3 linked regions of the Homo sapiens genome follow. Each later gene encodes a partner of the first gene's protein in a complex. Each region holds a gene or a part of one and is shown on either strand. Other genes may lie near its edges. The genes, in order: TBL1X, HDAC3 and ZYG11B.

Evidence for each region.
Region 2: TBL1X (region 1) and HDAC3 share a complex: the UniProt entries of both Homo sapiens proteins name them as parts of the N-Cor repressor complex.
Region 3: TBL1X (region 1) and ZYG11B share a complex: the UniProt entries of both Homo sapiens proteins name them as parts of the E3 ubiquitin ligase complex.

Annotation. Positions count from the first base shown.
Region 1 is NC_000023.11:9,705,981-9,709,727, forward strand, and holds part of TBL1X (F-box-like/WD repeat-containing protein TBL1X), read left to right. Parts: intron 1-3,267; coding exon 3,268-3,342; intron 3,343-3,652; coding exon 3,653-3,747. UniProt on the Homo sapiens protein: F-box-like protein involved in the recruitment of the ubiquitin/19S proteasome complex to nuclear receptor-regulated transcription units. Plays an essential role in transcription activation mediated by nuclear receptors.
Region 2 is NC_000005.10:141,634,753-141,638,499, reverse strand, and holds the start of HDAC3 (histone deacetylase 3), read left to right. Parts: upstream 1-1,650; 5' UTR 1,651-1,709; coding exon 1,710-1,764; intron 1,765-1,869; coding exon 1,870-1,952; intron 1,953-3,546; coding exon 3,547-3,689; intron 3,690-3,747. Other genes in the region: RELL2 (RELT-like protein 2), read right to left, coding at 91-274. UniProt on the Homo sapiens protein: Histone deacetylase that catalyzes the deacetylation of lysine residues on the N-terminal part of the core histones (H2A, H2B, H3 and H4), and some other non-histone substrates.
Region 3 is NC_000001.11:52,729,344-52,733,090, reverse strand, and holds part of ZYG11B (protein zyg-11 homolog B), read right to left. Parts: intron 1-3,747. UniProt on the Homo sapiens protein: Serves as substrate adapter subunit in the E3 ubiquitin ligase complex ZYG11B-CUL2-Elongin BC. Acts to target substrates bearing N-terminal degrons for proteasomal degradation with the first four residues of substrates being the key recognition elements.

The sequences.
Region 1 (3,747 bases):
AGGCACCTCACATGGCCAGAGCAGGGGCAAGAGGTGGGAGGAGTGGGGGGGGTGTCACATACTTTTAAAGGACAAAAACTCACGAAGACAGCAAGCCACGAGGGATCTGCCCCCATGATCCGGACACCTCCCACGAGGCCCCACCTCTGCATCAGGGATGACAGTTCCACCTGAGATTTGGGTGGGGACACCGATCCTAAACCACATCCGTGGATTTACCAGCAGATGGGAGATTGCGGAAGTAAGGTTAGAGAGCATAGAAATTGGCCAATTTGAAGAACAGATAAAAGATCGAAAAAATGCATAAAGGCTTAATGGCTTATGGAACAATATCAGAGACCCTAAACCTATATGCGTGATGGGGAGAGAAGAAAGAATGGAACAGAAAAATCATTTGAGGCAGTAACAGCCAAGTTTTCCTAAATTTGGTGGAAAACATCAACATTTAATCCAAGAAGCTCAGCAAATTTCAAGCAGAACAAATATAAACAGAACCACACAAACAGAACAGACCATATCCACCTAGGCATATGGCCATCAAACACCAGAATCAATGACAGAGAAAATCCTAAAGGCAAGCAGAGGCTGACAAATCCATTATATACCAGGGAACAACAATGGGAACAACAGCTGACTTAGCAAATTCCTTAGTTTGGCCTCTGAGGCGCTTCCCGGTCTTTCACCAAATCTCCCTCAGATTAGCCAATTTCTATGGTCTCTAACCTTCTGCAATCTCCAGTCTGCTGGTAAACCCATTTACTAGCCTCGACCTCCTGGGCTAGTGTCCAAAAATTCCCTGTGCCTCTGTCCTCCTAAAGACACGTGCAGCCAAGCACCTTGCCCCGCGCTGAGCCCTGCCTGGAATGCTCCCTGCCTTAGACCCCCACAGCAGCTCTCGGTCCAAAACAGAATCCTCCCCAGTCTCCAGGCCCATTCACGTATCCTCTGCACGCCCTGGGGAGGATTCACGGCACCCCCTGAGCTCCTACTGCCCACATGAATGCCACAGCCCTGGCAGTAGCTGCTGGCCTGCGTGTCTGCCTCTCCCAGAAAACGCAGAGTGCATCAATGCTGGGACCATGGCATCTTGCCTTTCTCTCACCAGCACCCAGGATATCTCTGTGGTGGGGCAGGGTGGGGGTCCCTTGTTAAAGCAGGAGAGGATGGTCACAGTCCCTGGAGATTTGCCATTGTGCCACTAACTTAACTGATGTAAATTCCCTTGTCCTGATTCCCCTAATGCCCACCTCTCCCCACCCCTGGCCCAGGGGTCCCTGTCCCAAAGGAAGGCGCTTTTAGAGCACAGGCACCTATCGTCCTGTTAACATCTGTTTGGCTCCAAACTGACTCTCTTCTCCCGGTCTAAACTTATTTCTCCTCTAACCCTGGACTATCCACAAGTTTTTAATAGAGCTGTACACACTATCTGCAGTTCCCAGGTGTCCTGCCCAGGACCTTGCCACCAGCACAGGCCTTGGCCCTTTAAGTGGGTCTTAATGTGGCTGATGGCCCTGAACAAAGCTCCAGCTCAGTGGGGTTGAGTGGAGACCCATGAGCCGGCTCTGGAGGCGGCCCAGGAACCGGGGCTTGCATTGCAGAGCTAGGGATCCGCTCCCAGGAAGTTATTTGTTCCTTTGCATGGGCTTGGCTAGGGACAGCCAGTGGTGACCAGCTCTACATTCCTGGGCCCATGAGTTTTCCTCTGAACAGCTGCAGTCAGAGCCACCCTTGCTGGCCTTGCATACACATTCACACTCATAGACACCCATGCGTGTGCACACTCACAACCCTCAGCCCCCTCTCCAGTCGGCCCCCTCCACCCTCCCGGGCTCTCGCAGCAGCCTGCCCCTGGGCCGCGAAACTTCTTCCTCCTCCCTTTCCTGGGCCACGTGTGCCTCATGGAACACAGATGTGGCCTTGTCACTGTCCAGTTCACACCCTTCAAAACTCCATGTTCTTAGAAAGCAACCTGACCATACAGTTAATCCAAACCGGAGCCCTTAGGAGTATGAAATTTAGAAAATTCATTATGAGTGTGTCATTAGTTAATTGTTAGGCCGGGACAGCAGGTGTCACATGGTGGGACTGGACTGGACATATGGGGCCCTATAGTCACCCCTGAGGGAGCCCCAAGCTGGTACGCCATGTCCCCTCATTTCTCCTGGGTAGGCTGTTCCCCAGCTGAACCTTTGCCACAGGTGGTTCTTTTACACATGCCTGTCCCGGTAGTGTCCCCGTCTCCCTTGGCCCCTGGGTACATTCATTCACCTTTATCCTCCAGGGTTTAGCCTCGTGGTCCCCAGGTGTCCTGAGCCTGTGCTTTTCGCTACCTGGCTGTGCCGATCACGAGCCCCCAGCCAGGATTTTGCCTGTGTCATGTGTGTTTGTGCCACTCAGCATTTGCCTCTCACTTGTGTTGCACATGTGTGCCTGCCTGTGTGTGCATTTGGGTCGCCCATCTTCCACCTGGATCAGCCCTTACCCCGCTTGAACTCCGTAATAGGTGAGGGTTCACTTCTCATGTTTACCCCTCCCTCCGCCTCCACTCACCTGCAGGAGAGAAATACCTTCTAATGGGTGTGGACACTGGAGGAACTGTTACATTAAAAGTGCATAAGAGGCCTGGCATGGTGGCTCACGCCTGTAATCCCAGCACTTTGGGAGGTCGAGGTGGGAGGATCACTTGAGCCCAAGAGTTCAAGACCAGCTTGGGCAAAAATCCCAAAAAAAAAAAAAAAAAAAAAGGGCATGGTGGTGCCTGCCTGTAGTCCCAGCTACTTGGGAGGGTGAGGCAAGAGGATTGCTTGAGTTTAAGAGGTACATGCTGCAAGGACCTGTGATCCTGCCACTGCACTCCAGCCCGGGAGACAGAGTGAGACCCTGTCTGAAAAAGAAAAGTGCATAGGAAAGTGATTTTCAAAGGCCAATTTAAAAAGTAACTGGTTTTACTGGTTTTATTTGCTGCGTTTTATGGTATGTGATTTCTTCACTTGCCTTCCTTCCTAGCAGGGAAGGTTTTTTTCTTAATGAAGTATGGATGAGAGTGGCTGGTGTTGTGTGGTATAGGGCTGTGGTTTTATATAAATGAAAAAGGCAAAGTGAGAAAAAGAGGAAACTAGATGGCTGGTTGGGCTGTGCCCTTTGATGTCAGGCTGAAGCCGAAGACCTTCTGCAGCGCCGGTGGCGCGCTGCTGCCCCCTGCTGGAAGGTGACCTCATCTACTCACAGGCCCTGATGTCTTTTTCACACTCTTCTGCTCTCTTTCAGAACGAGGTCAACGCCATCAAATGGGATCCGTCTGGAATGTTGCTGGCATCCTGCTCGGATGACATGACATTGAAGGTAGAGTCGGCATGGCAAGGGGTGGGCTGTTTAATCCTAGACAACCCCGGGCACTTGATGCCAGTCTCACGGTCACTCTTACATGAGGATTATTTATTACTGACCACCCTCCCTTCCTCTGTCATCCGGTGAGCTACGATTTCTCAGTCATAGTCCCACTGAGAATCGCAGCCTCCCTGCAGCCTTTCTCACCACTGTGCACCCTCCACCCTGCCCTGGGCCCCGTGTGCACCCCCGGGAGGAATGATTCCACATCGTTCCCGGATGCAGGAATGGCTTTTGCTCATGTTGTGTCTGGTGTGTTCTGTAGATCTGGAGCATGAAACAGGAGGTGTGCATCCATGATCTTCAGGCTCACAATAAAGAGATCTACACCATCAAGTGGAGCCCCACTGGGCCCGCCAC
Region 2 (3,747 bases), on another chromosome or scaffold:
GATTTGGCCTGGGTCTGTTGGTCAGGGAGGCAGAGGTGTGGGGAGAAGGGTGAAAGGTGACTGAGCCAGGGTTCCAGGCTCCTCACTCACGGGGCTGAAGCTGGGCATCGTCAGGCTCAGAGCCCCTCGACGTGCGGCAGCGGTAGCCCTTCTTCTTGAGCACGTGGCAGATCATGAAGCCTACCAGGCCCATGAGGAAGAAGACCAGCACAAGCAGGAAGAGCATATATAGCCCATGTTGGGGCGGTTCCAGGTCAGGCTGTGGTTCCGACATGAGGCCCTGGGGGGCGAGCGCGGGCCAGGGCGCCTCCTGGGTTTAGGGGGCTGCAGCTGGGAATGGGGGAGGGGTAGGAATGCCGTCCTCAGGATCTGAAACAAGCACGTCTAAGACGTCCGGCTGAGGTCCGGCCCCACCCCCTACCCAACCAGGGAGCTGTCCGGGCCAGGAGTGCTGTTTCGCCTTTCGGCAAGAGGTCAGCGGCAACGCAAGCTCTCTACCACGACCCTGGTCCCGCTTCCCCGACGCCCCGAGCGTTCCCCTTTCCAGCTTGTTCGCGCTTCTGTCCCTCCCAAGGACACTGCAGCACGAGATGGGACGGCATTCTTAGGCGGCGGGAGCAGAAATCCTGCCTGAGTCAGCGCCCGCACCTCCTCCACGCCGGCCTGAGCCAGGCCTCTGCAGCCCCTTCCTCTCAGTACTCCCGCACCCCTCTCCCTTTTTGGTTTCTCCCACCCTGACCACCTGGCCGACCCGGTACCGGTGATTTGGTTCTGGTTCCGGCTTCTGCTGGGGTTCCGGCTCCAGGGGCGTCCTAGTGCGGCTCAGGGCCCCCGACGCCCTTCCGGCGCTCATCCCTTGATTCCTCCCCTCCCCCTTCGCCGCCTCACCGGCCCCGGGCTGTGGCTGCGGATACCCGCGCCGTGGCAGGCGGGGGGAGGGAAGAACAGAGAAGGATGCGGGCTGGCTGAGAGCGGTGGCAGGCTCCGGGCAACTCCGGCCCTGGGTCAGGGAGATCGCCTCCGCAGCCGCCCTGGCTTCCCAAATGCCTTCACCCGTCGCGGGCCCAGGACCAGGGGGCGGAGCGCAGGTGTGCGGGGCGGAGAGCGTGAGCTCTGCGCGCGCGTGACTGCGCCGGGCCCCCCCGGGGCAATGTGCGGCGCCGAGTCTGGGTCCGGGTAGGGGACAGGCGGTCCGGCGTGGGTGTTGTCCACTGGTCTATCCGGTACGCCTGGCGCAGCTCCTGCCCTCAGATGCCCCGACCGAGCGGAGAGTCAGGAATCTTCTCCGAGGGCTGGGGGAAGCCGGCTTTCCGCACCTTTGAGGGACGGAGTGGCGGGATCTTCGGAGCTTCCTAGAGAAGTGACCACGGCCTGCGCCCGGTTTGGGGCAAGCGGCTGGATGGGATGGCTCGGCTTCCCGAGGATCTGACCCCCGGCCGGAGACAAATGGCCCTCGCATCCTAGGAGCTATGCTGCCAGTTCCCTGCCCAACCCGGGACGCTCAAAGCCCCAGATACCGGGAGAGCTGAGCCGGGCGAGGGGCGGAGCTCCCCTGGGGGCGTGGCCTGGGTGTGGATGGAGGCGGGGCCGCAACGCCCAGTTCCGCAGAGGCCGGCTACGTGCTTGCGCAGCACGCACGGCCGGGGAGGGGCTGGCGGCGGCCGCGGGCGGCGGGCGGCGGAGGTGCGGGGCCTGCTCCCGCCGGCACCATGGCCAAGACCGTGGCCTATTTCTACGACCCCGACGTGGGCAACTTCCACTACGGTGAGGAAACAGGGATATGCATGAGGGGTTGGGACACGGAGGTTTTGAGGCGGGGTTGCAACTCCAGGGGTGAGAGCTGACGAACTCTCTTCTCCCCACCCCCAGGAGCTGGACACCCTATGAAGCCCCATCGCCTGGCATTGACCCATAGCCTGGTCCTGCATTACGGTCTCTATAAGAAGATGATCGTGAGTTCCGCCGCCTCGGCCGGGGGTTGGGGGGTGGGGCGAGCTGTGGCCGTAGGGATAGGTGGGCTGGACTGAGTGCATGAAGTGCGACCCGCCCCTAGAGTATCGGGGAGCTGGATAGAAGTCACCAGGAGTACCTTGAAAGTGCAGGGTGTTGGGGGTGGCGTCCTCTGCTTAATGGAAAGTACTTTCTCACCTCAGGTCGGCCACCCTCTGACTGTAGGCACACTAGCCCTTGGCCTAGGGTTAGCGTGATGTGGGGCTGGTTTGAAGACAGAAGGTGTGTTCCTCCTCTGCATTTTAGAGTGTGGATAGGGCCTTGGCCTCAGGAATTAGGGTTAGGGGAGCGGATATCACTGTATCAGGGTGTGAGGTTTACCCTCAGTTCCCACTCCTCTTTTACCACCTTTCTTTACCTCCAAGGAGCTAGGGCTCCAGGGTGGAACGATGCTGCCGTCTTTGTAAATGTGTATGTGCGTGTGGAACAGAGGCGATATTTTAGATATTCCTTTTTCAGCCTGGAATACCTCTACATGGTTCTGCTTAATCGCTATCCAGTTTTTCATCTACCAGACATACACATGCTGTCTTCCCAGCTTGGAATTTATGGCTGTGATATGGGATAGTAACAGTTAAGCCACGCCAGGCGTGGTGGCCCATGCCTGTAATCCCAGCACTTTGGGAGGTTGAAATGGGGGGGATCGCTTGAGGCCAGGAGTTGGAGACCAGCTTGGGCCACAGTGGGACCCACATCTACAAAAAATAAAAATAAAAAAAGTAGCCATGTGCGGTGGGTGTGCCTGTAGTCCCAACTACTTGGGAGGCCGAGGCGAGAGGATGGCTTGGGCCCAGGAGTTTAAAGTTACAGTGATCTATGATCAGCAGCCTGAGTTGACAGGGAGGACCTTGTCTCAAAAGAAAAAATAAGACAAAACAGCTAAACCCAGGCTTTATGTGTTGCTAGGGAAACTAGTGAACAATATGAATGAATGTTCATTGCTTGTGCCAAGGCACAGACAAATGGACTGGTCATAGAAAAGACTGAGGTGATGTTAGTGCAGGAATCTATATCCCTTGAGATTGTTTGCCTGTATGTACCTGTGTGCATTTTCTGGGAGAAGAAAAGCTCTTTCTTGTGCAGTTTTCAAAGAGGTGTGACACATCCCCCTGACCTTCCAAAGATAATAAATCTTTGATTTTAATTAGAAAGTTGACATATATCCCATATATTTGACTCCAGAAAGAAGAATCCAGAGGAAAGAGGACAGAATCAGAGCTTGGGGGAGGAGATGAGCATGGAGAGAACTGGGAATAGGAGATTCCAAGGAACAGGGCAGGTGGATCAGGGCTCAAAGTTGAGAAGGTACGATAGGCTGAGCTGGAGGTGGAAAGGAAAAGAAGTGGTCTTCAGGGGGCTCATTTGTAATAACTTACCTGGTTAATCGGAGTCTCTCTACTGACTTAAGGATTGTGGGATGAGGGGAATGCTATGTTTGGCTTCATATAGTCTCCAGGACTGGGTTCAGTATGGGTGGTCTGAGCCTGTGGAGTGGGGCTGACCCTGCCTGGGTTCATCTTGTGTCTCCATCCCGAGGTCTTCAAGCCATACCAGGCCTCCCAACATGACATGTGCCGCTTCCACTCCGAGGACTACATTGACTTCCTGCAGAGAGTCAGCCCCACCAATATGCAAGGCTTCACCAAGAGTCTTAATGCCTTCAACGTAGGCGATGACTGGTGAGGGAGGACTGGGAGTTTTGATGTCTAACAGTTTAATGCCAAGCCCTTCAGTGAG
Region 3 (3,747 bases), on another chromosome or scaffold:
TGTAAATTTTACTGAAATAGGAAATAATTCTGTCTTTGTATACAATTGCTTCCACGCATGAGCTTTATCTAAGGAAAATAACCTCCTATGTTGGGTTAATAATTTTTTTTTTTTGAGATGGAGTTTCACTCTTTTTGCCCAGGCTGGAGTGCAATGGCTCGATCTCAGCTTACTGCAACCTCCGCGCCCCCCGGGTTCAAGTGATTCTCCTGCCTCAGCCTCCGGAGTAGCTGGGATTACAGGCACCCGCCACCACGCTCGGCTAATTTTTGTATTTTTAGTAGAGACAGGGTTTCACCACATTGGCCAGGGTGGCCTTTTTTTTTTGAGACAGAGTCTTGCTCTGTCGCCAGGCTGGAGTGCAGTGGCACAATCTCGGCTCACTGCAACCTCTGCCTCCCGGGTTCAAGCGATTCTCCTGCCTCAGACTCCTGAGTAGTTGGGACTACTGGTGTGTGCCACCACGCTCAGCTAGTTTTTCTATTTTTAGTAGAGACGGGGTGTCTTTTTTTAACCTCTGTAATCACAGTGTCTCAATCTCTTGACCTCGTGATCCGTCTGCCTTGGCCTCCCAAAGTGCTGGGATTACAGGCGTGAGCCACCACACCCGGCCAAATTATTAATTTAGAATTTTAGTCAGCTAATAAATTATATGTCTAATAATAGGGGGAGATACAGAATGCCACTAGTGTTAATATTTAATCTCTGTATACAAGATATAATTTTCTTTTAAGCAAGAAGGAAATTTAGTAAGATTTCCCTCCTATTGTAGGACATTTCTCCACTTGTGCTTCTGAATAACTCTGATTCATACTGGCCTGAGACTGCTCAGACTTATGGTTCAAAAGCATAAGCTTGGAAGGGATTTCAATTTATTTATTGATTCCCCTACACACATCCTTTTTCAAGTTTCAAGAACACATTTACTGATACTAATAATAACTTCCATCTTTTTAGTTCAAAATGTCACTGTCATAAGAAAAAAATAGGCTGGGCACGATGGCTCAGGCCTGTAATCCCAGGACTTTGGGAAGCCAAAGTGGGCAGATCACGTGAGTCCAGGAGTTTGAGAGCAGCCTGGGCAACATGGTGAAACCCCATCTCTACAGAAATACAAAAATTAGCCTGGCGTGGTACTGCACGCCTGTAGTCCCAGCTGCTTGAGTTGGATGAGGCGGGAGGATGGCTTGGGCCTGGGAGGTCGAGACTGCAGCAAGCCGTGGTTGCACCACTGAACTCCAGCCTGGGTGACAGAGTGAGATCCTGTCTCAAAAATAAATAAATAAATAAAAGCTATTAGTGTTGCTGCTTAACCATCCCATCTAAAATAGTTGCCCTCTCACACACACACAATATCACTTTATATCTTAGCCTGGTTTATTTTTTCTTAGTATTTATTATATAACTATTGTCATTATACATTTATAGGTGTATTTATTGTGTATCCCCTCCCTGTACCCCATGTCTTTTTTTCACTTCTGTAATCACAGTGCCTAGAACATCACCTAGCCCTTAGGAGCTGGTCAAAAATCATCTCTTTATCAATGATTTTTATATTCTGGACATGGAAAGAGACTCTAATCAAATAATTACAGTAAGAAATATAAAATTCCTGTTGCTATGTATTCTATGAAAAAGTGCTACATAATAAAGAGGAGAGTGACCTAGGTTTTTTGGACAGCGTTTCCCTGAGTTCCTTGAATGGAGAACTCCAGGATATGTTAGAGTTAGGCAGGCAAGAGAGAGTATCACCACAGGTCATTTGCACATGCTGCTCCTTCTGTCTGGACTCTTTTTTTTTTTTTTCTTTTTTTTTGAGATGGAGCCTCACTCTGTTGCCCAGGCTGGAGTGCAGTGGCACAATCGCAGCTCACACTGCAGCCTCCACCTCCCGGGTTCAAGCAATTCTCCTGCCTCAGCCTCCCGAGTAGCTGGGATTACAGGCACCTGCCACCATGCACAGCTTATTTTTGCATTTTTAGTAGAGACGGGGTTTCTCCATATTGGTCAGGCTGGTCTTGAACTCCTGACCTCAGGTGATTCACCCACCTCGGCCTCCCAAACTGCTGGGATTACAGGCATGAGCCACTGCACCCAGCCTATCTGGACTATTCTTTACATAACTCCTACAATTTAATCCCTCAGTTCTCTACTTGAAAGTAAGACCCTCTGCAAAGCTACTCCTAACTATTCCATTCCATTATTCCACAACTTCTCTTTTCTTTCCTTTCTATTTTTTTTTTTTTTTAATGAGGTCTCGCTCTGTTGCCCAGGCTGGAGTGCAGTGGCATGATCATAACTCAATGCAGCCTTGAACTGCTGGGCTCAAGTGAGCCTCCCACCTCAGGCTTTAGAGCAGATGGTACTACAGGCATGCACCACCATGCCCAGCTATCAACTTGTCCTTTTTCAGCACACTCAAGATATATTAAAACTCTTCACATTTAAAATTACTGTATGAAGGCTGGATGCAGTGGCTTGTGCCTGTAATCCCAGCACTTTGGGAGGCCAAAGCGGGAAGATCCCTGGAGGCCAGAAGTTTGGTACCAGCCTGGCCAACACAGGGAGATCTCTTCTCTACACAAAAACAAAAAATCAGCTGCACATAATAGAGCACACTTGAAGTCCTAGCTTTACTTGGGAGGCTGAGCTGGAAGGACTGCTTGAGCCTAGGGGTTTGAGGCTGCAATGAGCCGTAATCACGCCGCTGCACTCCAGTCTAGGCGGCAGAGCCAGACCCTATCTCAAAATAAATAAATAAATACATAATAAAATAAAATTACTCTATATACATGAGATGAAAAATGCCAGAGGTCACATCTATTTTACTATCTGTCATTTCCCCAGTGTCAACACAGTCAAAGACACTCCAAAAACATTATTAGATTAATTAAAAGTAAGGACTATGTCTTAGACCAGTAGTTCTCAAATTGTGGTTCACAGACCAGCAGCATCAGCATTATGTGGGTTTTGACAGAAATGCAAACTTTTGTAGTAGTTCACGTCTATAATTCCAGCACTCTGGGAGGCTGAGGCAGGAGGATCACTGGAGCCCAGGAGTTTGAGGCCAGCCTAGGCAACATGGCGAAACCCCATCTCTGCAAAACATATAAAAATTAGCCAGGTGTGATGATGGGCACCTGTGGTCCCAGCTACTTGGGAGGCTGAGGTGAGAGGATCGCTTGAGCCTGGGAAGTCAAGGCTGCAGTGAGCTGTGATCATGCCACTGCACTTCAGCTTAGGGACAGAGCAAGACCCTGCCTCAAAAAAAAAAGAACTGCCACCTCTCAGGCCCTGCCCTCAGTTCACTGCAACCTCCACCTCCTGGGTTCAAGTGATTCTCCTACCTCAGCCTCCCGAGTAGCTGGGATTACAGGCATGTGCCACCACACCCAGCTAATTTTTGTATTTTTAGTAGAGACGAGGCTTTGCCATGTTGGCCAGGCTGGTCTCGAACTCCTGACATCTTAAACATCTCAACTATTCAAACACAACCTAATTAACATTTAACAAATATAAAATACAAAGCTTTATAATAATCATTCATTCAACTGTATTTATTATCTACAAAAATATTGCACGAGAAAGTGGCCTCTACTGATAATTCCTAGCTCAAAATAAGCTAATATTCTGCCTTCTCCTCACCTCTCCCATACATACACTGTTACTCTGTGTGTATATGTTTTAACAAGCAAGGAAAAATCAAGTTAATTAGATGCAAAGTTTAAAACATAATCATGCCTAATA